Regions from separate parts of the Homo sapiens genome. Here region 1 is linked to region 2. Evidence: fine-mapped expression QTL. Tissue or cell type: whole blood. Region 2 holds a variant in brackets; the other region holds the start of a gene. All regions are shown on one strand. Distances are between the middles of the regions.

What was found. PIP is the estimated chance that this variant, and not a neighbour inherited with it, causes the effect.
Region 1: PIK3R5 starts here. The variant in region 2 is fine-mapped to the expression of PIK3R5 in whole blood (TOPMed, PIP above 0.99).

Annotation. Positions count from the first base shown.
Region 1 is chr17:8,964,424-8,967,032 of GRCh38, forward strand. It overlaps PIK3R5 (phosphoinositide-3-kinase regulatory subunit 5), which reads right to left and starts at 1,284. Exons shown (of 19, transcript NM_001142633.3): 1 at 1,173-1,284. PIK3R5-DT (PIK3R5 divergent transcript) reads left to right here and starts at 1,424. Exons shown (of 3, transcript NR_184080.1): 1 at 1,424-1,580; 2 at 2,344-2,609. RefSeq lists silencers at 1,208-1,527, 1,598-1,697.
Region 2 is chr17:8,888,252-8,891,003 of GRCh38, forward strand. PIK3R5 (phosphoinositide-3-kinase regulatory subunit 5) reads right to left here. Exons shown (of 19, transcript NM_001142633.3): 7 at 2,487-2,661; 8 at 1,722-1,875; 9 at 888-971; 10 at 1-640. All of the region lies in intron 1 of LOC124903922 (a long non-coding RNA gene), which reads left to right. Among named protein-coding and RNA genes, the nearest start is that of PIK3R6, 22 kb to the left of the region's middle. RefSeq lists enhancers at 1-488, 489-1,297. The variant A/C (reference allele first, on the strand shown) is at 1,619.

The DNA of each region.
Region 1 (2,609 bases), 76 kb after region 2:
TATGGGTCAGTATGACAGCCCATTTTATGAATCAGGAGACTGAGGCTGGGTTGGGGGACAGTGTGATGCTGCAGGTCACACAGCTGGATCCGGTTGGAACTTGGGTCTCTTTTCCACATCATGCATGGTTCCCAAGCAACGGCTTCAGCATCATCACTTAAGGAGCTCATTCAAAGTTTTGAAAACTACAGATTCCAGATCCCATCCCTGGAAAGCCACGTTGTAGGGTTGGCTCCAAGAGAGCCCTACCTGCAGTCAGCTCTGGGAGCCAGTGCCTTACAGGTGGTCCTGAGGGCAGGAAGGAAAGTGTGGGGTGGATGAGAAGACACAGAAGGAAAACGAGGGTGTCAGTCCAGAGAGGACCTTGGAGGCAGGCTTGGCCTACTTTTAGCCCTTATTCTGCCTAAACCCACCCCTCCTCTCTACTCCGAGTCTTGTTAACTCGCTTTATACCACATCCTGCTGCTTTAACCTCGCCTTCCTTTTCCTTCTGAACAATCTCCTTCCTCCTACTGACCTGAACTTTTTGTGTATTTACCCCAGGCCGGGATGGGCCAGCACGCGCACATGCGCATGCCCACACACACACACACACACACACACACACGAGTCACGCGGGGATGTCCAGTGTGTAAACACAGATCCTCTGAGAGCAGAAAGCGTGCAGTTCTCTAGGACAGCAGCCGCGTCTGGGCCCAAGGCTGGCTAACTAGCAGGCTGAGTGAGGCTCGACGGAGGGCGCCTTACGCGGGCACTTCCATGACTCCCAGGTTCTGACGGCACAAGAGCCCTGATGCCCACGCTCACGGACAGTTCCCCGCTGGAGCGGGCAGGGGACCTGACCCTACGACACAGGGCGTCCTGTGTCAGAGGCAGGAGGCTGAGGACACAGCTGCGCAGAGCCGCCCAGCAGAGGTTACCCGGATAACGATAAGTGGTCCCCGCGACGCCCCTTAAGTCTCTGGGGTTATCTGGAGCGCAGGTTTGCAGACCCGCTGCCCCCGCGGTGGGCCAGGTCCACGGGGCCGGAAGATAGCAGGATCTGTCCAGCCCTCGGGCTGCGGCGGCTGCTCGCGGAGCCCACTCTCCCCGACGGTCCCCAGCTTGCTCCAGCTCTGCCTGGAGCTCCCATGCGTGCCCTCCGCATCCGCCCTGGCCGCCCAGTCACACACCTGCAGTCCCCGCCGGGCGCCGAGCCCCTCTCCAGCGGCGACTCCCTGCGATTCGGGTGACCGTCGGGACCACCGCGCCCCAGCTGGAGCCGCGCGGCGAGCCGCAGCATCTGCCCAGCCTGGGCTCCTCCGGCGGGCGGGGCGGAGCCTGTCAGGGGGCGGGGCCTAATGGGGCGGGGCTGACCGCGGAGCCGGCCTCTCCAGCCACCTGGCGGCCCGGCAGCGTCAGCCAGGTGCGCGCCCGGCCCCACATCCTCTGGGTCACGCCCCCGAGGCCGCAAGGCGTCTGAGAAGCAGCCCCGGCTCTGACCCGCCAGCCCTCGGAAGAAGCAGACCCTGGCCGGTCCATGGCAGTGGCCCGAGGGGCACCAGCGCGGAGCACCAGCGACCCCCAAGGAGTAAGGGGAGGTTAGGCCCCCGCGTCGGAAGCGCGGCTTTGGCCCCGCAGGAGGGCTGGGCGGAGCAGGGGGGCAGGTCTGGGGTAGGGGCTTAGGGGAAAGACGAGAAAGAGGAAGCTCCGACGAGCTGCTTCCTTCTCTCACTGCGACCCACTTCCTCTTCCTACTTCTATTTTCTTTCTTTTTTTTTTTTTTTTTTTTGAGATGGAGTCTCGCTCTGTCGCCAGGCTGGAGTGCAGTGGCACGATCTTGACTCCCCACAACCTCCGCCTCCCGGGTTCAAGCGATTCTCCTGCCTCAGCCTCCCGGGTAGCTGGGACTACAGGCGCGCGCCACCACGCCCAATTTTTTGTATTTTTACTAGAGACGGGGTTTCACCATGTTGGCCAGGATGGTCTCGATCTCTTGACCTCGTGATCCGCCCGCCTCGGCTTCCCAAAGTGCTGGGATTACAGGCGTGAGCCACTGCGCCCGGCCCCTACTTCTATTTTCTTTGGGTGCCCTTAACCCTTAAAATGCCTGCACTACTGCTGTGCAGACGGGCACCTTGACCCGCATCCTTCTGCAGGAACCTTCATAGAAATACCAGCCAGTCCCGGCGTTCAGCACTGCTGTTCCAGCCTCTGGCTGGACTTCCCGCCCTCCCTGGCCGGCACCAAGGCTACTGTCACCTGAGTGGTTTCCCCAGCCCCTGGGGAAGGGAGTGAGGGTGTGCGGGAGTTCCTGCCTCCAGGGTCAAGGCCCTCTTCTTGCCTCCCCCTTTTCTCCCCCAGACGACGTTGCAGATGATGCTCTACCAAGAGTTGGAAGGACTCCCCAGGGAATCCCACAAGACACTGCGCTTCCTATGCCTCCTTTCCCTCGTTTAAAAAATGGGGATAAGAAGGTTGGCTACTGCTCCGACAGCCCTCACAATGGAAGAGTAGCACTTCATTTGTGGGTTAACAAAGGGCAACGCTGAAATCTCCACTTCCACTATTGAATGGAACTGTGTCATAATATCTGTTAGAGGCGTGCAAACTCGGCCACAAGGTCATGG
Region 2 (2,752 bases):
GGATCCTCATCTCCACTCAGGAAGGGGCGGCGGCGCTGGGGGCGTGAAGCAGGGGCCAGAAGCCAGCTGGGCAGCTGGGTACCGAGTTTGGGCTGGGGCAGGGAGCGGGAGCGCTGGGCCCGGGAAGGGGGTGATACTGGTTCGTCCAGGGGGCTGCAGAGGCTCCCTGCCCGCCTCAGGGGCAGGGCCGTGTCCGAGCTGCCCTCCAGGCTCCGAGAGTCCCTCCGCAGTACCAGCTGGCTGGTGCTCTTGAAGAGTTTATAGATCCTGATGAACTTCTGCCCAGGCCTGCGGTGGCCTCGGCGTTCCTGGCTGCCACGCCTCCAAGGCCACTCGGAGGAGCTCTCCTCGCTGTCCTCCACGTAGCCGCTGTCCATGCCATCAGAGAGGCCTGAGACAAAGGAAGTCAGCAGATGGCGCGAGAGGGCCGGCCCCGAGGCCTGGGAGGATGCAAGGGACAAGGTGGAGTCATGGGACGCCAAAGAGCTGGTGGAGAGCAGGGAATCTCTCTCGGCACAGTGCCCGTCAGTTTCCAAGTCCTCCTCCACCTCCTCCTCCTCCTCTTCCTCCTCTTCATCATCTCCCAGGATCCCTGGCTGGAGTAGCTCCTGTTCCTTGAGCAGGATTTCCTGCAGGATGTCTGCAGGGAAGCAAGGCCAGCACTGTCTGGGCGTCTGGGCCCCGGATCCCCTTCTATATTCCCTTTGGAGGGGAGACAGCAGGACTCAGGGCCAGCCCAGGACTCCTAGCACTGCCCCCTTGCTCTGCTTAGAGCCTGCTCATGTGGGAGAGCTTTGGGGACGGGGTGGGAGCTGCATGGACCCAGGACCAGAAACACAGCTCAGGCAGTGTGGGGCATGGGTGTCACCAGGGCCCCGGCTCCTTACCAAAGCTGTCCTGGCTCCAGCTGTAGGTGTAGCACCTGGCGACAGGGATGGGGATGGTGTGGAGCTTCCCTGGTTTTGCAGTGTCTGTAAGAACAGGGAGGATAGGAGAAGAGGGCTGGGAAGAGGCCTTGGAGATTGGCCAGTCCAGTCCCCTTGCCTTGGAGAAGAGACCAGAGATGGGACAGGATCGGCACAAGGATATGTAGCTGGATAGGCTGAGGCTGAGTTACAGCCAGGGTGCCAGGCTCCAAGCCAGAGGCCCTTCTTTCAAGCACACCATGTAGATGGCATGCCCTTTATGAGCTGTGCGAATGTGGCCAAACCACAACCTCTGAGCCTCATTTTACAATGTGCCCATGGGAGAATAATAGTACTAGCCCAGAAGGTTTTTATGAGGAATATTGTAACAGGGAATGCTAATGGTTCCTCAAAGTCTGTGCTCCCTTCTATGGTACTGGAGTCATAGAGACGATGTTTCCCAGGCTCCTTTGGGGCAAGATGTGGCCACGTGACCAAGGCGGGCTCAAAGGAACATGAGCGGAAGTGATGTGCCCAGCTTCTGCATCACCTTCAACAGAAAAGCCCAGCCTTTGCCCTCGTAAGCACTCTCTTTTCCTCTTCCCACAAGCTGCCATCATGATAGCACCCCCACCCTGCCCCTATAGACAGGAATGAGACACCCTAGGGGATGGCAGAGCAGTGAGATGCTGAAGAAGCTGAGTCCCTGAGTG[A/C]CTGTGTGGAGCAGAGCCACCAGGCCCGCCTGGACCGTGCACCTTGGGACCTAGAATAGGCCATGGGGAATGTGGGAGAACCCCATTCTCCCAAGAGCCTCACCTAACACCCCAGGGAAGCCAGCTTTTTCTCCCACCGCCTGCAGCTTGGTCCTGAGCCACCGCCGGGCCTCTGCAGCATCCCCGATGCCAGATGCCAGCTCCTGTGCCTCTGCGGTCTCCGTGAAGATGTCCTCAAGCTCTGCCAGGGTCTTGGCCTGAAACCCCAGGAGGAGATGGGCTTTGCTCCTGGACCGTGAGCTAGCTGTCCACCTGTTCCAGTTGCTAGCTTCTTACTGAGGGAGGCAGTGATCTGTCCCCTCCCAGCCTCATCACCCATCTCCTACCCACAGCTGGCCAGGCAGCCAGGCCTCTCCCTGCCCTTCCATTCTCAGGAAATGGTCAGGAGAGAAAGATCCAGAGCCACGGCACTGCAGTTAGGAGGGACTTCAGCGCTCCTCACTGTACCCCATAGAGGGGAAGGAGCTGTGTGGGGTGACACAGCCGACCTGTGACACCTGTGACAGAGCCAGGCCTAGATGCCAGGTCTTCAGCCCAAAGCTCATTCTCGTTCTTATGGCATATGCCATCTTCTGAGGCACCAGTTATCAGCACCCAGTCCTACTGCCCAGGCTGCCACCCAGCTGGTTAGGATCCAGCACACCAGAAACACCCTCTATGAGGTCAGCCCTCCAGCCACCACCCTGCCATGTCACCTGGGTGCAGGAGACTAAGTGTACCCTGGAGACCGTGGCTGAGATGAAGCAGGGAGAGGGTGCTACCTCCTCAGAGAGGTGCTCCACCAGAGCCCCAGGCCCCAGGTACATACCTGTAGCCTGCAGTGCAGGCCCGGGACGTCACAGTGGGCCCCAAAGGTGGCCTGGAAGGCGTGCAGGAGCAGGGTGGTGTAGGCACTGTGAGGCGAGTGTCCGGGCGTACTCAGCTTATTGGCTACAGCAAGGAACTCGGCCTGCACTTCCACTGGGTTCAGCAGCAGCACGGTGCTGGGGACACAGGGGACCGGCTATGGCACCCAGGGGTGCGCAGCATGCCACAGTGCAGCCACCCCCCTCGTGCCTGCTGGTGCTCAGCTCC